Regions from separate parts of the Homo sapiens genome. Here all the other regions are reported to be linked to region 1. The links are microRNA targets in miRTarBase. Many come from high-throughput screens and were not tested one by one. Region 1 holds a microRNA gene; each other region holds the end of a gene's coding sequence. Distances are between the middles of the regions.
What was found. The annotated mature microRNA hsa-miR-548a-5p reads AAAAGUAAUUGCGAGUUUUACC and lies in region 1 at 2,771-2,792, shown strand. An mRNA with a match to its seed (bases 2 to 7 or 8) in the 3' UTR can be bound and repressed. Matches are read on the target gene's strand: a 7mer-m8 pairs with bases 2 to 8, a 7mer-A1 pairs with bases 2 to 7 and ends in A, and an 8mer does both.

Region 2: miRTarBase lists CELSR3 as a target of hsa-miR-548a-5p. Seed matches in the 3' UTR shown: 7mer-m8 at 1,782-1,788 and 7mer-m8 at 1,867-1,873.
Region 3: miRTarBase lists HMBOX1 as a target of hsa-miR-548a-5p. Seed matches in the 3' UTR shown: 7mer-A1 at 2,011-2,017 and 7mer-m8 at 2,071-2,077.
Region 4: miRTarBase lists THRAP3 as a target of hsa-miR-548a-5p. Seed matches in the 3' UTR shown: 7mer-m8 at 2,121-2,127.
Region 5: miRTarBase lists LIPA as a target of hsa-miR-548a-5p. Seed matches in the 3' UTR shown: 8mer at 2,490-2,497.

What each region holds. Positions count from the first base shown.
Region 1 is chr8:104,483,094-104,487,211 of GRCh38, reverse strand. MIR548A3 (microRNA 548a-3) reads left to right here and starts at 2,747; the gene lies at 2,747-2,843. It overlaps LOC105375691 (a long non-coding RNA gene), which reads right to left. Exons shown (of 3, transcript XR_928507.3): 3 at 2,925-2,963.
Region 2 is chr3:48,634,810-48,638,927 of GRCh38, reverse strand. It overlaps CELSR3 (cadherin EGF LAG seven-pass G-type receptor 3), which reads left to right. Exons shown (of 35, transcript NM_001407.3): 35 at 696-2,465. The coding sequence ends at 723. It overlaps SLC26A6 (solute carrier family 26 member 6), which reads left to right and starts at 3,467. Exons shown (of 21, transcript NM_022911.3): 1 at 3,467-3,557. The coding sequence starts at 3,535. RefSeq lists silencers at 3,259-3,538, 3,929-4,028.
Region 3 is chr8:29,050,434-29,054,551 of GRCh38, forward strand. HMBOX1 (homeobox containing 1) reads left to right here. Exons shown (of 10, transcript NM_001135726.3): 10 at 585-2,829. The coding sequence ends at 722. Among named protein-coding and RNA genes, the nearest start is that of HMBOX1, 160 kb to the left of the region's middle.
Region 4 is chr1:36,303,235-36,307,352 of GRCh38, reverse strand. THRAP3 (thyroid hormone receptor associated protein 3) reads right to left here. Exons shown (of 12, transcript NM_005119.4): 12 at 1,996-3,557. The coding sequence ends at 3,336. It overlaps SH3D21 (SH3 domain containing 21), which reads right to left and starts at 985. Exons shown (of 16, transcript NM_001162530.2): 1 at 929-985; 2 at 598-755; 3 at 448-511; 4 at 68-186. The coding sequence starts at 932. RefSeq lists enhancers at 85-134, 1-737 and silencers at 235-674, 895-944.
Region 5 is chr10:89,211,199-89,215,316 of GRCh38, forward strand. It overlaps LIPA (lipase A, lysosomal acid type), which reads right to left. Exons shown (of 10, transcript NM_000235.4): 10 at 2,374-3,863. The coding sequence ends at 3,630. Among named protein-coding and RNA genes, the nearest start is that of CH25H, 5.9 kb to the left of the region's middle.

The DNA.
Region 1 (4,118 bases):
TGTTGGTATCATCTAGGTAATTAATCCATGTAGTTTTTATATCCTATCTGGATCAGGAACCATCCATTTAATCCCAAGTTTTCAAATTTATTTGCCTAGTTGAGGAAAGTTAACTCTTCGTCTTCTATGCATGTGGATGTTGCCCCTTAGTTTGTATTATGCTTTCTCCCTTATTTTCTTTTTTTTTTTTTTTTTTTTTTTTTTTTTTTGAGACGGAGTGTCGCTCTGTCGCCCAGGCTGGAGTACAGTGGCACGATCTCTGCTCACTGCAAGCTCTGCCTTCCAGATTCATGCCATTCTCCTGCATCAACGTCGTAAGTAGCTGGGACTACAGGCGCCCGCCACCAGGCCCGGCTAATTTTTTTGTATTTTTAGTAGAGACGGGGTTTCACCGTATTAGCCAGGATGGTCTCGATCTCCTAACCTCGTGATCCGCCTGCCTCGGCCTCCCAAAGTTTCTCCCTTATTTTCTTGATAAAGGTAGCTAACAGTTTACCTACTTTTTTAATTGTGTATTTTTTTATTTTCCCCAAACCGCTTGGATGTCTCTATTCTGTAATTTTGTTCTTTCTAATTAGTTGATTTCCACTTTAATAAGTTTTCCACATTTTGCTTTCCTTGGTTTATTTTGTTTTTTTCTAACTCGAGTTAGCATGTAATTTATTTTTACTTCTTAATTCTTAAGAAGAGATGAAGACATGGACTTAAGTGTGAGCACTGCTTAAGGCGAATCATTTGGCTGCATTAATGTCATTACTGTTATTTTCTAAATGTTCTTAAGTTTCAGTTTTGATACCTTCTTTAATCCAAAAGTTGTATAAAAGAAGTTTTTTTCTTTGCTTTTTTTTCTAGATAATGATAATTTTTTGGTGTGAGTCTTAGTTTTGTTTTCTGATTCTTTTCATTTTATGGCATCAAAAACAGAATGTTAAGAGTATATGTGTTGGGGGGGCGGTTATTGTCTTTCAATTTTTAAATGTCCCAAGAGCACTTTTAGAAAGTGTGTTATTTCTTTACAGGATACAGATTTTAGTGGGAGTTACTCAGATTTTAGATCTTCTCAACAGGATACAGTCCTTTGTCTTGTCAGTCAGAGCACCAATATTAGTAGGGAAGAGAATGGAAACAAAAGGAGCTGTTATCAGAAGGGATCTATGGGCCAGAAGCCCTGTTACTGGCTCATGTCATACACTAGCACTAAGAATATAAAAGCACAGGATGAAGGGGTCTTTCAATAAGCTGTTGAGGTTTTAATTCTCACTACTGCTTACCACCGTCATCCACTGTTCATCTGGAAATAAGTGGGTAAGACAGGCTAAATGGGATAAAGGAAGAACAAGTTCATTGAATTCTCTAAGTGTTTATTGAGCACCTACAACAGACCCAGCAATGTTCACAGCAGTTTACAGCGGCCCTCCTTTCACCTGCTCCACCATTCCCTCACACCTTTTCCCCCAAATTTCCAGGGGAGAAGATGACAGCAACTTGATAGGACCTGCTTTACTCAGGAAGGTCCCTGTTTAAAAATTAGTAGAAGCAGGCAGTAGAGAGAAAGGCCTTTTCTCTGAATACCTGAACTCTTCTTCAGGAATAGCATACAAATTGCAAATTGTATATAGTTATTGGCATGAGCTGATAGCTGGCTGTGATTGCATTTGTTTCCTAAGGTAATCAACATTCAAGGTAGACAAAGGATGCTAAGTAAAATTCACAGAATTTTAGAGCTGGAAGGAATCTTAAAATGAAGTAACAGACATAGCTGTTTAGTCGGGAATTTTCTAGACTTAAATCAATTATATACCCATATTATGTTATACATACAGGTAAACATAGGCCATGTATGCATACATGGTTTACCATCATGTGATGTCATGAGGTTTTTTCCTATTAGAAGTCAGGCCATTCTGACATTTTTGCACGTGCCTGCTCCTAAATGAGTGCATCCCACACCGTGATGGTATTCACACCATCAAATGCTATTCTGCGAGCCTTTTACCACCAGCTGCTTCTGCATTATAGGAATTTTCAAAGCAATAATATTTGCCCATTGTTGAGTGCCTATCACCTGCCAATTTCTTTATATGTATCCTTGGAATCTTCACAGTCCTGTGAAGTAACAAACTTACCTTCTATTTATCCAAGGTCATATAGCCAATAAGGGCAGAACTAAGATTTAACCTTAGTCGTGCCTGACTCAACAGCTGTGAATAAGATGGATCATAAAGTGAAGTAAGATTTATCAGGAGAAATATCTATCAAGCTGGAGTTGACAGACCTGGATTATTATGCCAACTCACTGAGCCTCAGCTTTGTCATCTTGAGGTAAGGATAATAGCTTCTTCATAAGATCATTGTGAGGAATAAAGATAACGTGTAAAGGCCTTAGCACTTGTTCTGTCCATCTATTGCTGCATAAAAAACTACCCCCAAACTTTGTGCTTAAAGCAACCACAATCATTCAGTTTTCTCACAAATCAATAATGTGGGCAGAGCTCAGTGGTATTGGCTCATTCTGCTCCTCTTGGCCTCTGCTGGAGTTGGAGAATATACTCCCCAAAGAACTCACCTGAGTGACTGGCAGGTTTGTGCTGCCTGTCAGCTGGGTGCTCAGCCAGGAGCCTGGGATCCTCTTCATATGAGTCTCCTCAAGGTTGCTTATGTTTCCTTAGAGCATGGAAGCTGGACCCAAGAATGAATGTTACAGTATACAGAAGCTGCAAGGCTCTTATGACAGAGTCTCAGACATCCTAGAATGTTATTAGGTCGGTGCAAAAGTAATTGCGAGTTTTACCATTACTTTCAATGGCAAAACTGGCAATTACTTTTGCACCAACGTAATACTTCTGCCACATTCTACGTGTCAAATCACTGGCCAACCCAGATTCAGTAGGAAAAGAAATAGACTCACCTCTAAATAAAAGGAATAGCAGGTAAGTCATTCCATCTTTACCCCAGCACAGTACCTAATACATAGCAAGAAACATTAAGTTGCCATTATTAATATTTTAAGTAGAAAAAGTTTTACAGCCTTAGAAATGTATTTGCTAAAAGGATATAAAATTAACTCTGCTCCACTGTCATGTCAGGCATGTATGTGTATCTCATATCTGTTTATTACAAATACAAGGATAAAACAATTTGCCTTAGCATATTCAGTCAGAAATCACAGCATTGATGCAATTTTAAATAAACATATTTAGGCAGTTGGTAAAATTTAAAGATTAGCAGTTATTTCTCTACATTTAAAATAACTTGTATTAATATTTCAACATGTTGTAACCTATAAAATGTTTATTTTAAAATTGCTTAGAGGCAACAGTATAGTGCGTAAAAGTCTGGAGTCAGATTGCTTGGATTCTAATTTCTGTCCAACTCCTTACTGGCATGTGCCTTTCAGGAAGTCAATCACCTGTACTTCCATTCTTCATCTGTAAAATGGGGATAATAGGGCTACTGGAGGATCAAACAAATTAATATACATAATGCTCTGGGAACAGCATTGTAATATACACATAGCAGCTCTTGGCTTATAGTAGGTGCTGTGTAACTGTTTGCTATTATTGTCATTGTTTAAATGTTAAAACATCTGACCAGGTACGGTGGCTCATGCCTGTAATCCCAGCACTTTGACAGGCCAGGTGGGCAGATCACCTGAGGTCAGGAGTTCAAGACCAGCCTGGCCAACATGGTGAAACCCTGTCTCTATTAAAAATACAAAAATTAGCCGGGTGTGGTGGTGCATGCCTGTAATCCCAGCTACTTGGGAGGCTGAGGCGGGAGGATTGCTTGAACCCGGGAGGTGGAGGTTGCAGGATCCGAGATCACACCACTGCACTCCAGCCTGGGTGACAGAGCAAGACTCCGTCTCAAAAAAATCTCTGAATCTTACATTTAAATAAGCTATCGTACATGAAAAGTTCTAAAATAATAGTGGTTTCTGAAGAGAAATAGAAACAGATCATTTTCCATTTCTTATGTGTGCTTATTCCTGGGATCATGAAAGTGAATTGCAACCCAGAACAAAGGTCAATAAGAGAGCAGGGGAGAAGAAAGGATAACAGCCCACTTGTGATAAGTTAATAGAATTCCAAGACCAAGCAGACACAGATGAAAGGATC
Region 2 (4,118 bases), not on the chromosome of region 1:
GTTTGTGGGGTAAGAGATGGCTTGGGGAGGAAGGGGGCCCTAGGGGTGGGGCAGGGGATCGACAGAACTGAGCAGGACCCAGGGCAGAGAGAGGACAAAGGAAGGAGGAAAGAGCAGGGGTTTGGGGATCCTGGGGCTTGGGCACTGAGGGCTGCTGGGGGTGGGGACCAGAGGGAGCTAACCCACGGCCTGGGTCCCCCTGCAGTCTAGCTTTGGGGTCTGGCTGTTTGGGAGGTAGACTAGGGACTGAGCAGGGGTCCAGGCTCTGGAGTCGCACAGGTTTGAGTTTGAGCTCTGTGTCTTACCTTACTAGCTGCGTGACCTTAGGCAGAGGCAAGCTTTTCTGGGCCTCAGTTTCCTCATCTGTAAAGAAGTCTGTAGTAACAAACTCTTTGAGATGTGGAAATCTATGAGATAATATCTGTCAAGTGCTCAATATAGCATCTGTAAACAGTAGGTGCTCTTGAAGCACTTAGAGAAAACACCTGGGCAGCCAAGGAGCCTGGCTGAGTCTAGGGGCGCGGAATGGAGGACTCTGAGAACCCTGGAGTGGGCATGAAGGGGCTGGGGGCTAAGAGGCGAGAGCAGTGGTGGAGGCAAGGGAAGCAGCCAGGCCAAATGTGGTGGGGGAGTCCAGAGCCGCCTGACTCGGAGTCCTCTGGGCATCAACCTCTGATTTCCTCATGTGCCTCCAGAGTTCCCAGAAGTGAGGGTCACTCCTGAGGGGATGACGGCGTGGACGAGGAACAGCTGAGGGCGACAGAGGATCTAGGCTAACAGGAGAGACTCCAGGAGTGGGGGCAGATCCCAAGGCAGCCTCCTGCTCCCCAGTGGTGGGTGCCCCAGCTCTACCTGGTGTGGCAGGGCTGAGGCTCCATGTGCATCTGTGAGCATGCGTGTGACAGGTGCAGAGACGGGGGACTGGAGGGAGACTTTTATACGTTTTGTACCTTTGTAACCAGAGAGATGCTTATGTTATTTTTCAGCTTTTCTGTCTCCTGGGGGGTTTGAGGCTGGGCTGGGAGGGGGAGGGAGATAGAGGGAGAGATGCAGTTTGACCCCATTTGGGTCCTGAGCAAACCCTATGCTCATCTCTCTCTCCTTCCTGGGGTGGACTCAGATGGGTGGGACACATGCCTTCCTCCCCCTATTCCACCCCCAAGTTGATCTGAGTATCGTCAGGGGCCCAAAGTACAGAATTGTTCTTTGCTTTTTATTGAATGCTCCAAAGGCCAAACTTCTGGGGCTGGGGGTTGGTCTTGGAAACAGGGGTCCTCTGACTTCCTCATGGGGGCTTGCTCATACCGCCCCTCCTGGTGGATGTGTGTGTTTATTATGTGGAGTCCCTGCCACTTACTGCCTTATGACCTAGGACTGATGCTGTGGGGTGCTGGTGGAGCAGCTGATGTCGTGTTTACAGAGCAAGGCTTCCCTGTCTCCCACGGGGAGGGGCTCGGGCCTCTAGTCAGACATTCCTGCAGAGGGTCGGTGGAGGGGTCATTCACCTGCCCCTGCAGCAAGCAAAAGTTGTCTGTGGTGCCATTTGATTCCCTGACACTGCCCCCTGCTTGAATTGATTCCGAAGGGTAGGGTGGGAAGGTGAGCAAAGGGAGCAGAAACAAGGGAATTCAAGACCCAGAATGTAGGTGCCACTGCCTCCTATGTTTACAGGATCCTCCGTGGCCCTAGGCACCTGGGCTGCAGGAAGTGACTCCGTTCCACTCCTCCTTTATTCCCTTAAAAAGGGAAAAATGACTGTTACGACCCTGTTCACAAAACTCTTACTTTTGCTATTTTGTCTGCTGTCCAGAACTGAAGACTTTAAAATTTTGTTACTGTTTACAAGTCCAGATTCAAAAAATGTTTTTACTTTGTTTACAACTCAAAACTTTGAGTTTTACACTTTGTTTACAGTAGATAATTTTTTTTCCTTTGTTTCCAAGTGAAAGGTAGGGAAAGTGGGAGAGGGACTTGGAGGACCCACCTGTGAGGACCCTGACCTGGCCATCTTGAGGGGTTTTCTAACCCCCAGGTCTCCCAGGCCGAAGGTCAGCCTTGAGTCCCGTTTAACAGCAGATCCAGAAGACCTTGAGAGTAGGCGTCCTCTAACCACGGGGGAGAGTGGCTGTGCAGGGCTGGGGGGTGGTCTGTGCAGACACCTCCTCACCCACCACCCCATGCATACTCTTGGGAAGCAGCTTCCTGGGAGATTAGAAATTCTACTTCCCTGACTGGAGCTAAATCCCACCAGCCAGGACCCAAACTCTCCTTACCGAGAAGGACCCCAGCTCTTGAAGGGCTGAGTGGCCTGCTGGGGGTGGGAGGGTGTCTTTACTATGTCCTAGGTTTCGTAGATGCCCCTCTCTGGGGTTCCCCTCCTCCAGCCCAGCGGCCCTCTTTCCTGTCTGTGTAAATTGTTCCGTGAAGCCGCGCTCTGTTTTGGGAATAAACTTCTATAGAAAACAGTTGTTGCCTTTTCCTGTTGGGGGCTGGGGAGGTAGGATGGAAGCTGTGAATGATTCAAGCCAGACTGACCTTTGGGAGGAATCTGAGCCCCTCCCAAGAATATCCAGCTATTTTTAGCCCATTTCATGGCAGATCTCTTTCACCTTGAAATCTGGCCCCTCACTTTGTAATTGGGGCCTGATGTTGGAGCACAGGTGCTGAAAATAAGGTGCTAAGGAAAACCTCCCCGCTGGTCAAGGCAACGGCAACAGGACTTCCTAATTCTTCAGGGTCTGCAGCCCTGACCCGGCATTTTTTGCCCTCACCTGCGGTGAAACCAACCTGAGGAACTGCTCTTGCAGTTCCTGCCTTGCCCACCCAACAGCACTGACGCCCACCCAACAGCACTGACCCCCACCATTCTCCTCGGCGGCCCGCGCAGTAACCTTCTGGGAGCTACGTCCGGGCTGTGCTTAGTGCAGCGGAGGGGATCCTCCAACCATTTCTGGCCTGGGTGGCCAGAGTTAAAGGGGAGGACTTGGGGACCGTTGGCTCCGGGTCTCAAAGAGATGCGTAGTCGCAGAAAGCCTGCGGGTGGCGCTCTCAGCTGAAGGCAAGAGAGGCCCCACAGACCTGGATCCCCTACGAGTTAAGGCTGGGGTCACCGGCCAGTGGAGTTTCCTTTTCCCACTCCGTGAGCACCTTCCGCCGAGCCAGGACCTGGGATCAGCTCCAACCTACTCAGGGCCTGGGGGCGCGACTGCGGCCAGCCCGGCGCGGGTGCTTAGTTCCAGTTCTGCAGTCCCATCCAGCTCCGGGCAGAGGGCCGGGCGAGCAGCGAGAGGCCTCATAGGCCAGGTCGCCGGGGAGGAAGCGGTTAAATCCTCCTTCTCCAGTCTCTCCCCGCCCGGCGCGCGCCACTTAGGCCCCGCCCCAGCGCGCTGATTGGCCCAAGCCTCCCCGTCCTGCCCCGGGATTAGCCCCCGGGAGAGCGCAGCTGGCCTCACCCGGTCCCGGCGCCGCCTTCCGGAGCGTAGCGGCCTCTAGCTCGAGCAGCAGGAGCAGCCCGCACCGGACAACTTGCGAGCCATGGGGCTGGCGGATGCGTCGGGGTGAGTTCAGCGCACATTCCCGGTGGCCCCGCGCGAGCGCCTCGCTGGAGCAGGCATTCTCCGCTTGCGACGCCTCGCTGGAGCAGGCATTCTCCGCTTGCGACGCCTCGGTTTACCTCTGCTGATTTTCTGCAGGCGGCTGCCCCTCTGCAGCAAGGGGTGGGGGCGGGAGCCGGCGCGACCCCAGTCCCTTGGGCTGTGCGGAAAGCCGCTGGTGTGACGCCCGAGGGCCATCCCGGGCCACAGGGAGGCAGCTGCGTGCGGAGGAGCCCGGCCAGGAGATGTGCCGGCGGGGGTGCGTGGGGCACGGGAGTCCCTGGCAGCGGCCCGTGGACTAGCTGCTTTCAGCTGAGTCCCGAGTCCACCCAGCTCCACTGATCCCGGAGTGAGCGCTCCGGCCTTTCTGGCCCCAGTTGCCTTCCTACAGGGAGGGGCCAATGATCAAGGCTCCGCCCTCCAAACGCGGGTCCCAAGTTGTCGGGGGAGGGAGCCCTTTAAGAAGACCTGAGTGACTCACGTAGGAAAGGAGAGGGGGCTCTACGATCTCCTTGAGATAGCGGT
Region 3 (4,118 bases), 75 Mb from region 1:
CTCGACACCTTCCTCCCCTTTCTCCCGTAGCCGTTTCTGGCAGTGACATGTGTCCTGTTGTAATGGAGAATTCTTTTTTTCTTTTTTTACAAAAATGCATTTTTTATCTGTAAGATGTAATTGTAAGTTCTGTCTAGTTTTCTCAGTTCAGAGAGGGACCATGAATTCTAATAATCTATTTGTAAGAGCAGCAATCTGGAATTTAATAGCTCACTAGTATGGCCTTCAGTGATTAGTGCTATATTTGTTACAAACAGAAAGATCCAAATTGTTGGTTTTATATCAATCACTGCAGGTTTGATCATCATCACCAGCAATCTTATTAATAGAATGAATAGAATTCTCAGTGATGAAAAACATTTTTTGTGCTTTTTACTTGTTGAATCATAAGATTATCAACTGAAAATCTTTGGACCTATATCCATTCAGTGTCTACTTAAATACAATTTACCTCTATTTTATCATGAGCCCCTCCCCCAGTTTCCTCCCACGAATGTTCTGCCTCCCCTTGCCCCAGCATGTCTCTCTGTGACTAAAGAATTCTTCCAATCCACTAATAACATTTCTTATTTCTGCACATCTAGGATGACAGTACGAGCCATAGTGACCACCAAGACCCCATCTCATTAGCTGTGGAAATGGCAGCAGTCAACCACACTATCTTGGCATTGGCCCGACAAGGAGCCAACGAAATCAAGACAGAGGCCCTGGATGATGACTGATCAGGGAGGTTAAACATGACAAGTTAACTTAGTTTAGACGTAGCACCTTAGCAGACTTTCCTCGGTCCTTAACATGTGTTCTTACAGTATAACTTGCAGTTTCTTGTATGTCAGGTAGCTGTTAGGGTCTTGTTCTGTGAAGATGGCATGGTGCCCTCAGCCTTTGCATATACTCTCTCAGTATTAACTCCCAGTAAATAATAACCAACCAACCAACCAAACTTCCCTCTCCCAGCCCCCGAGGCTAGAAAATCTTGCTGCTCCGTCTTAGCATTCCAAGAAAGTGCTTCCAGGTATTTAGATAGCCCTCAGTTCTCAAATATTAGACTACGTGTAAAATCTTGGGTACCTTTAGATTCTTGTAACACTAGTCTGTACTCCCTTTTCCTTCCCCAAGACTGATAGGATGCAAGCTGAGGTCGTGGCACAGGAATGACAGACACCATTTGGGGAGTATCCACAGAGTCAAAGGAACACTAGAATCCCCACCTCAGCGTGAGGATAATTGATTTCCAGCTGCAATAAGCCGTGCCTCATTATAGCCACACTGTGGCTAGATTATACTTCTTTGGGTGCTGTGCTAAGAATGTCAATGGAAAAAGCCGATCTCAGATTTTGTTTGAAGTTAACATGCCTGACACAGACATCCTTTCCTCTCACAAGCTGTGTGACTTAGTAGATAAAATACTGCCTTCTGCCTTTGGGACCATGATTAAAAACAAAGACAAAAACCAAAAGTCATTAAAAAAAAAAAAAAAAAAAACCCAGCTTGAGAGCATTGGAAAAAAAAAATATGAGCTGAATGTCTAATGGATGCTAAGTCCAGTTTTCAGAACCACTGTACATTCCACGGCACAGTTAGCAGTGCCTGCCTGGAAAAGTTTTGGAGGTCATCGTGGAAGTTGCTTTGCCTCCTGTCAGTGTCCCCTTTCCCTGCTACCAAAAAAGTCTTTCAAGGATGGAGCTAAGGTCAAAAATGAGTGAAAAAACTTGCAGTGTTTGTATCCATTAAACGGAAGCCCCCTCACTCTGAGAGGTCACTAGAGGACTTCATAGTGGGGTTGTGCTGCTTATCACAGATGCAGACACTTGCCCAGATAGGAGCAGAGAAAAGCAGGGGACGTTTCCTACTCACATTGTGGCTGTATGAGAACACGATGGGACTGCTTTGCTGTTCTCTTTACTCTGTCCTTGGAGAGGTGTGAAAAGCTGTATTGCTACAGGCAATTTATTTAATAATTGGAAGCCATATTGATAATGGATGTGGTAATATTTGTAAAGTTTAATCTACTTTAAGCGGCAGTAACTAATGGAATTTTTTTCCTTGATCACATATGTAGCACTTTTGTTACTTTTTAAAGATATTTATATTTGATAAATCTTTTTTTCATTTTGAGAACTCAAAATACCAAACAGTGAACTTGCATTCTAAAGTCACCCTGTGATCACCTTGTCATCTAGTAGCAAAATGATGAACTATTCATGCATCAAAGAAAATTACATCTGCTGGCCTTGTATGAAAATGATCTCTTGGCATCCCGATTAAATGACACACTGTCACTGTGGGTAAGAGGAAAGAGCCTTCAATGTAGCAGCACAGGGTGCGCCTGAAAGAGGCACAACTGCTGTGGATTTTCTGCCTCGCTCCATCTCTCCTATGTATAATGAAGCCTTGTTTAAAGGGGCATGTGGGGCTGGATGTTAAGCACGGCTTCTTTTTGTCCGTTACCTGAAAACAATTTCTAAGATAAAAGGAAGGTGCCATTTCCTTACCTCTTCACCCATCCTCCTCCACCAAATGTATTCAACTTAAAACTGTGAGAGAGAGAGACTGAATGACCTTCCTCAGTTTTCCCTTTCTCATTCAGGAGATACTGAATATCCGCCAGTTTGTAGTTGGTTTCCTTCCACTTAAGGCACACGCTGACTGCATCATTTCCTTATCTGTTAATCCTGCTTATGTGAGTGTGAGGAAAGTCTTTGAGAGGGCATGAAAGTGCCACCTTATATATGTCTGTGACTTTAAAGAGCTATATGCAGGGCCTGGTCCCACTTTTGTCCATGGATTTCAGGGGGAAAAAATATATGTACTTTTTTCAGCTTCCAAGCATTGAAGTGAAGTGGAGCCGTCTCTTCTGTTTTACTGTATTACTTGAACCAACAAATTCAAGAGTAGCATTTGTTATTCTCAGGAATGAGCCTCCCACCGCCCCCCCCCCACCGACTCATATTCTTTTTTGGTTTATCTTTTTATTTCAATTAGGAGATTACGTTCTCTTCCTTTCCTTTTATTTTGCTTAGAGGAAATGTAACATAGTCCCATTTTTGTGGAATTTTGACGCTTATTCTCAATTGAATCAGAAAGTACAAGGAGACAGAGAAAAAATCCGCTCTGACAAGCCACATCCATGATTGATTGTAAGGGGATTATTATAATTGATAGCTTCTTTATCATGGGATTGCTAGTATCATTTGTACTTGCTGGTCTTTTTAAAGGAACAGACTGACTCAAACTGTTAAGACAGCTGCAGTTTCTAAAGAAATACAAAGATTGCCGTGGATGCACTCAAAGGTTTCATTGTTTTAACACCTTTAAGGGAGAAAAAAAGCTTCAGAGAATAAAGGCAAGTTCGCATCCATGAAGGGCAGTACCAGACCCTATATGGCAATGTGGTAAAACTGAAAGAATATTTCTACCACTGCAGGAGAATGTCCTGGAGAGCTCAGTGGGAACAGGAGGAAGGCATCTTCCACCCACAGTTGTTCTTGTCATTGGAGAAGACCGCTGGCTGCTCTGAAGACCCACTGCCTTACATGTCACTTTTGCTTTTTCACCAAGAGTGAGAATTTACTTCCTTTGGGCCTAGATTTAAACCTGTTAGTTTTCTGTTTGTCACCAAGTTCAATTCTGCCATTTTGTCCAGGCCACCTTGGTTCTTGTAATGGTGTGTGGCGCTGCTACTGTTATATTTATTTCTAGTGTCTTTAGGTAGTATATTTCTCTCTTAGGCTTTTTCAGGTTTTAGAGGTGGAATTAAAATAGAAACCCTAAACTTCCGTATTACTGAAGGGAAAGCAGCCAGGCTCTAAAAACTCACACTGTATGCTTCTTGGTTGTTCCGCCCCTCCCGTTGTACTTCACTCTCTCCTTCAGGCCCCAGGGGACTCCCGCAGGGGCTGTTCCTTCCTGTCGAGGAGGACTTTCAAAGGTCTTTTGAAGTGGGGTGTGGGGGAACTTGCCAACAGGTATTCATATAATTTGTTATTTCTTTAAAGACACCTTAATTGAATTACTATGGTCAGATGGGTAAACTTTCCAAACTTTAAAAGCACTGACACAGGGACCTTTTAAAATGGGTCATCTTGATGAGATCTCTGCCCATCTGTTGATAACCC
Region 4 (4,118 bases), not on the chromosome of region 1:
ACCCCGCTCACTAGGGAGGCGCGTTCCATCATCCTCCCCCAAACGGTCCCATCACCTCACCCCTCACCTCCTTTATCATTTCCACGATCTCCCCAGCTTGCAGCTTCAGCTCGTCCGCCTGCTCTGGGCTGTAGCTGAAGTTCACTTTGCACCATCTTTGGGGCCTCGGGTGTTTGGCAGGATGACCTAGCACCGGACAAGCGCGGCTGAGCTCCAGTCGGACGCCCCAGTCAGAGGAGCTGGGGGAAGCGCAAGGCGCGCACGTAGCCTTTGGTCCCTCCAGCCCCGCCCCAGGGCGGAGCATTGCACTCGAGAACCAATCACAGACCGCAGGGCGGCCCCGAGGTCCCGCCCAGAGCCGCGCCCGTCACTAAGAGCCGGAGACGCCGGGGTCGCACTGGCTCCGTGCACCCGCCCACCGGCGCCCGTCCCCGCCCTTGCGCTCACCTCGGCGGCGCGCACAGCGCGGCCTCCGCGCCTCTCCGGAGCCCCGCAGGGTCTCTGGGATCTCCTGGGAATCAGGGCACGGGGAAGGCGCTCTCAGCTCCCGGGGGGCGCGCGCTGAGACCCCACAGCCCGCCCCTGGCTCGGCCTCACCTGCACCAGGCGCTCGGGGAAGAGGCCATAGCGGCCCCCAAACTCTCCGCGAAGCCAGCCCCGCGCGGGCACCCAGCGCACCTGCCGGACCACGTCCCCGGGCGCCAGACTCAGCTCGTCCTCCTTCTGCGCGCGGTATCCGGCCAGGACGAGGACTTCTGCGGGCGGAAGACGGGGCCGGCGTGCGGCTCAGAAAGGCCCAGCCGGGCAGCCTGGCTAGGGCGGGCGTGTCCCCAAGCACCGTAGAGGGCAGCGGGGGTCGGGGGGTGGTGTGGGCTCTTGCTATGTCCACGGTTGCAGAGAGAGGCCACCTCAAAGCCTCCGCACTTACCCATGGTTTCCGGGGCGCCCTCCAGAGCCTGGCAGCTCCCTCTGACGGCCGAGTACTGGGCCCGCGCAGGGTGCGACCTGAGGCAAGACAGTAGGGTAAAGGAGGCGTAGCCGCCAGCCGATAGGTCGGGCCAGGTGCTGGGAGTGGGTGTGGAGAGGGGGCGGCCCGGCTCAGCAGGTCCGGCCCCCAACCCCGGGGTGAGGAGGACTCCAGGGTCTCTGGCCTGTGCAGCGGTCACAGCTCCGTCACAGGTTCTTCCGCCCACCTAAATTTTAGGCCAGCCGCCTCTCCCTTTCCCTCAGCTTTTGCCCGGAGGCTCCCAGCTACAATTTGCACAGAGCCTTTCCAGGCCCACCCTTCCCCAGCTCACAAGCTTTTGGCTTGAGGGGAAAAGGTGGGGAGAGGCACATACCAGGGTGGGGCCCCCCAGCAAGTAGCAACCGCTCTAAACCGGCCTTGAGTGAATGAAGTGGCTGCCCTTGTACCAGCAATAGCTTTGAGTGGACACTTCCAGTCTGCTTTCCTTCAAGGCGTACTCCTCTCTGGCCCCGTACCCACTCTCTACCCCCATATAGGAAGGACACAGCAAAGACCCCTGCTTTGGGGCCAGAGGTCTAGTTTGGTTTCAGAAAACACCTCCAGGTTTTCCCTGGGAGTTAGGCCGGGAGAATGAATTTTACCAGCTTCCAAGATTTCTGCTCACAGTTGAGTCCCCAGCCGGCAGGAGTCTGAAGGTTAGGGCCCACCCTATGGCCAGTCCATGTGGGATAGGCTCTTTCAGGTAGAAGGCTGAGCCTACTAACCACATCCCTTGATCCCTGCCCCACCACCATGATGAAGGAAGCCAAAGTCCTTGCCTATGACACCAGTGGAAAAAATCTGTTTCTCCTGGGGTGTCCAAGGTACACAATGCTCCTCCCAGGAAGGACTGTGTCTGTCTGGGACTCCAGCAGCCTGCGCAAGGCCCCACAGGCCCTTTGTCTTTCAGGTTTTCTGAAACTGCCGTGGGAAGTTATCTACCACCCTCAACACACACACACACTCAGGATGACAATGAACAGAACCCGTTTACATCTGCCACTTCATTTATTTTATTTGCAGGAGGAGTTGAAACAAATTTTAAGGGAGATTTTCATTTTCCCCCTAAACATGAATCATTCAAGTAAAACCAACTTAACTATAGAAATGTAGCAAAGTAAGGGGAAAGCAGCACAACAACGCAAGAGGCAAAGGCTGGGGGGGAGAGGTGGGTGCAGTCCGCATATAACATATGCATAAATGCCTTATGATTCACCTGCTCAGGACCGCCTCCCCAGAAGGCAAGCACAAGGACCCATTTTAAGAGGATGTTTCCCCCCAAACATCTGAGAATGCTTCAACTTAAACAGCTTAAGGTTAAAAAGACAAAGAAAAAAAAAAAGAAACCCAAAAAAACCCCTGAACCACCCAGCCATAACCACCTTCCTTAATCGATCATAGGAGTTTCTTTTCATTTTATAAAAAGATTAATAAAAAATATTGAAAAAATTTTCTCATATTTGTAAAGATAATAGAATTCATAAGTTTCTTAGAAAACAGACCAGACACTGCCCTCCAGTTTCCACCCCGTTGCTGGGAGGATCAGCAGGACTAGAAAGTTTGGGATACTGGAGCTGCTGGTGGAGAACGGGGAAGTCCAGCCCAGAAGAAATCAGGAAATAGGGCTCAGGGGCACGTGAGGTGTGGTAAGGAGCAACTCCACGTGATACATGGCTGCGCAGAAAAGGGGAACACAAGGTGGTCGGAAAGGCCTTAAACTCCTCCTTGACATACAAAACCGGTTTTTACAAAGATCCAAGCAGTTTGGTCCCAAACTGAGGTGAACACTTCAAAGTTTATTCACATGCTTTTGTTTTCTCTTTCAAGAATCAAAGTTTCCCAAATTAAATGTTTCTAATATTACTACATATGCCTAAAAAAAGAAAAAAAAAAAAAAAAAGGAGGGGGCTTTTAAAATCAGGACAGGGGAAAAGAGATCGAAAATCATCAAATTAGTCATCTTAGCTCCAAATGAAATGAAATTAGAACAAAACTGTTGGTTTCTAATAGGAAACAAAAATCCAAGCATCGCTCTCCCGCCCTACCCCTGCCCCCACCCCACACACCAACAAATGAGAAAAACAGCTAAAGCCCAATGCGTTGTATTCTGCTCAAAAGCTGGGCCTGACCCCTGGGCCCCATGGCCAGCCTCCTCTGTCCAGTGGGAGACAGCGCCAGGGATGCCTCTCGCGGTAGTACAATCTGTGCGGCTGGTGGGGGGTGGGGGTAGGATTTTCAGAATCTTCTTGAGGTTCCTCTGTTAAGCTCCTCACCAGCCATCTTCCCAGCGCCTCTCTCCCCTGGGCAGGAATCCCGTCAAGGGTGGCCCCTACTCGGTTGTGGGCTGTATATTGTCCTTCTCTTCTCGGTTCTCTGTCCCACTCTCGTCGTCTTCAATCTCCCCTTCCTCCCCACTGAACTTGTCATGGGCCCACTTGGGGCTGGTACTTGATTTCCGGAACATGAACCGGCCCCGACCCCGAGGAAAGGCTCCTCGGCCCCGGCCCCGGCTCACCCACTTGTCACTGCCTTCGCCTTCACGGTCATCATGCTGAGGGGAAAGAAAATTGCCATCAGTGCCAGAGTGAACAAGATGTGGCCAGAGCTCTCTTCTCTGCACGCACCCAAATGTGCCTTTCCCAAAAGAACCTGTGCCCTAACCCAGCCTTTTGATCCTTTTCTGCACTTCTCCCTGTCCCCCACTCCAAAAATGCCAGTGGTTCAGATCCATGAGAATATCAGTTGGGTGATTTAGGAATTTTAAGGTAACAGCTTGGGCATTGTAACGATGATTGACAATGATGATGATTCACTGAGCAAGAACCCTTAATAGTTTAAAGAAAATAAAAACGTCACTGAGCACTGAAGTAAGACATTTATGTACTATCTCATTTAATTCTCCTATCTACCCTATCATTATCACCTCCCACTCTGCAAACGTGCTTAAAGCTTAGGAACTTTAAGCAACTCCATATGATTTAGTATATCCTCTCTCAAAGGGTGGGTTTGAGAAAGCCAATCACACCAAAACGTGCAACTCCATGTGAACTGGGTTGTTAGGCAGCTAAGAAAGGAGGCAATGCGGCTGGGTGCAGTGGCTCATGCCTGTAAT
Region 5 (4,118 bases), not on the chromosome of region 1:
TATTAGAGATGTGTAGTGTTGTGTAACAGGGAAGACTCATAGAGGTGGAATGATCTCGAATATCAAAATCTAATCCTTCATTTTAAAGACTGAAGATTAAAAATTCAGTCTCAGAAAAGTCAAGACAAGGCTAGCTAGGGATAAAAAGCAAGTTACAGCCAAACTGAGCAGAAAAGGGCCAGGGTTGGTTCCAAGGTAAGTATCTCTTCAGGAGGAGTTTGGTATTGGAAGGGGTCATTGAAGCTGCTTTTATGTGACACTTTACAAAAGACTCAGAAAACATTAATTAGCCGTGCCAAAAACAATAGGAGATGCTGATAAAGAACATGGGGATGTTAGCTTCCTCCAGACACTCTCCTGATGCTCCTATTAGTCCAAATACTGGTGCATATTTGGTTTTAAACACTTTCTATTCTGATCCACTTACATGTCGCATTTAAGTGGGCGCTTCTACTCACTTATACTGTTGAAACTCTCATCAACCTCTCTGAAACTTTTAAGGCATATAAAATCATCCCCATTAAAAAGGCATTCCCTTGCCTGTAGAGAAACAAATGCTCGCCTCACCTGTCAAAGGGATTATTGCAAATATTAAAGCTTTATGAAAAGGCTTTGAAACCCCGTAAGGCACAACACAAAATGTGAAGTATTATTTTCAGTAATGCTAAGACAATTTGACAAAGAGTTTTGCTTGCTTAATTTGGAATTGAAGTTCAAATCTGCACCTAGCGCAACATAATGAAATACTGATTGGGTAACTTTTTAAAAATCAGAATAATTACTATTCAAAGTTGCCTTTCAGTGTCACAACAGATCAGAGTGACTTATCTTTTGAAAATCTCTTAATACATTGAAAAATTAATGACAAGAAATCACATTACAGTGTATTTTTAATGTTTATATTTAAAAAATTAACACCTTTAATACCCACAAACACAAAATAATCATTATTTGGGGATGTCACTAGTCTAAATTTCAGTCCTATATATGTGTGAGGCCTGAGTTAAAACCTTTTCCTCCTGCCACCCATCCCCCAACCACATCTGAAGTTCTGATCACTCATTTACCTATTAGGCAAATTTTTATTTTCAGTTTACATTTGAGGGGCAGGTATTCCTTGAGAACGTTTTCCAGATGTTATCCACTAGGCAAGAATTAATTATACTCCTGAACAGAAATAATACTACCATGGCTGGCCATCAAATTCCAACTGGCTCAGAAAGCAACAAAGTTCTCTACCTTCCCTGGTAGATGCTGGAGAAAATCTTAGAAAAAGTAGTGAGGACATGAACAGACACTTCTCAAAAGAAGGCATTTATGCAGCCAAAAAACACATGAAAAAATGCTCACCATCACTGGCCATCAGAGGAATGAAAATCAAAACCACAATGAGATACCATCTCACACCAGTTAGAATGGAAATCATTACAAAGTCAGGAAACAACGGGTGCTGGAGAGGATGTGGAGAAATAGGAACACTTTTACACTGTTGGTGGGACTGTAAACTAGTTCAACCATTGTGGAAGTCAGTGTGGCGATTCCTCAGGGATCTAGAACTAGAAATACCATTTGACCCAGCCATCCCATTACTGGGTATATACCCAAAGGACTATAAATCATGCTGCTATAAAGACACATGCACACGTATGTTTATTGCGGCACTATTCACAATAGCAAAGACTTGGAACCAACCCAAATGTCCAACAATGATAGACTGGATTAAGAAAATGTGGCACATATACACCATGGAATGCTATGCAGCCATAAAAAATGATGAGTTCATGTCCTTTGTAGGGACGTGGATGAAATTGGAAATCATCAATCTCAGTAAACTATCCCAAGAAAAAAAAACCAAACACCGCATATTCTCACTCATAGGTGGGAATTGAACAATGAGAACACATGGACACAGGAAGGGGAACATCACACTCTGGGGACTGTTGTGGGGTGGGGGGAGGTAGGAGGGATAGCTTTAGGAGATAATGCTAAATGACGAGTTAATGGGTGCAGCACACCAGCATGGCACATGTATACATATGTAACTAACCTGCACATTGTGCACATGTACCCTAAAACTTAAAGTATAATAATAATAAAGAAAAGAAAAGAAAAGAAAAGAAAAGAAAAGAAAAGAAAAGAAAAGAAAAGAAAAAGTAGTGAGGGAAGAGAGCGTGGGAAGATTTGCAAGCAAAGCCAAGAGTGCCCTCTTGTGGCATACAAAAAAATGATTTTTAAAAATCACTCGTTACTTGGTAGCCCTTCATTTCCCGGAGTAAACACATTAACCTTGAGAAGAGTTCCAAGTACTGCCAAGAGAGAAAGGGAAGAACCGGATGACTGTTAAATAAAAGAGAAAAAACATACACACAATTCTTTGGGCCTATAAGTCTCACTCAATTTTATTGAAAAGTTTAAGACTTTAAAAGTTACAAAGTAGTATTCGCCCTGCCTATATTAACCATTAACAAGCATTGTACTGTTAGTGCAGCTAAAGTAATTATATCAGAAAAACATATCAATTGTCATTTTGTCCACCGGACAGTATTGTAAGGAAATGATGCTGCAAGAAAAGCAGACAAATATGGACTTCCCAACATAGGGACGTGAAGCAGGTGTATTAAAAATAAGGATGCATATAAAACTAAGACACAAAATGAATCCCTGAGCTGAGTTTGCATCCGAAAACATCACGTTCACACTTCATTTGGGTGAAAATGAACAAGGACACTTCTCATGGGCAACCACGGGGCTTTGGCTTCACACAGATGTGATCAATAACGACAGTAGCGGGCTCCAAGAGTACATTAATCTCAGAAAAAATAGTGGTATAGTCTCCACAGGGATTTGCTTCTCAGATAAGTAGAACTATGGCCTGCCATGAAATTGAGAGCTCATGAATATAGATGGTTGAGTGTATCAGTCTTCAAAGCATTTAAAACATACTTTTGTTTTTGTTTTATCAGTGCAATTTGTTTTTGAAGACGCCGGAAAACTATTTCATTTAACCTGAGCAATTAAAACGTGTCAAATCACAGCTGTCACAGTTAGGTTTGATAAAATTAATTGTTAGCATCCTTATTACTGGCACAGCTGTGATATTTCTGGATTTGACTATGCACCTGCTGCAGGAAAACATGATAAAATGTCATTTAGATCTCTAACTACAAGACCGTTAGACTAGAGAGCTCTTTAAGGCAAGGACATGAAAACTGCGTACTTTTATACCTCGCTTAAGTCAGTGACAGATTTACCAATGACAACACAATTTTAAAATTCCAACACATATATTACTTTGTCCTATGAAGGGCAAAAAGTCAATATATTTTAAATTTTAAAAACAGAATGGATATAATGACCTTTTTACACATCAGTGATATTTAAAAGACTTAAAGAGACAATACTATGGTTGAGACACTGGCTTCCTATTCCAGCCCTAATTAAAGAAAAAATAGCTAGTATGTTTCTAATTGAAACTAGAGTGAACTGGGCATCTTCAAAGTTATCATTTTCTTGGATATAAAAAAACAAAAGACCTGGGAAAGAAAAACAAGTGTTTTACAGAAATGAAGCAAACACATTTTCACATGACATAATCATTGACTTGGTGGTACACAGCTCAAGTCCAGCTTTCACTGATATTTCCTCATTAGATTAATAATTTTATTATAAAGCCTCCAAGGGGCATCCAGGCCCCAAATGAAGTCAAGATGCTCCCATTCCGGAATGCTCTCATGGAACACCAAGTTGGTGATCTGAGTCAGTAAGATATTGACGTCGTAGACATCTGCAAGCCAGTCGTGACCCCCGCTCCAGACTGCAGTCGGCACAAGCATGTCCTTCACATTGTATGTGGGAGGATAACTCTACAATGAAAAGGAACCAGAGAAAGCCTCGTTGTTGTTGTTGTTTTAATTTTCAAAATCACAATAAGCGCAATCTCCATTAAACATTGTCTAGTAAGTTTGACTAACAGACTAAATTTTTAAAATCTCTTTGAGTATCTTTTCAAGTTGCCATTACCGGCACAAAAAAAGAAATCTAACCCCAAATGAGAGAATGCTAATTATAATCGCCACTAGCTGTGGAGCTGCTGCCGTAGGCTGGGCACCAAAATGAAT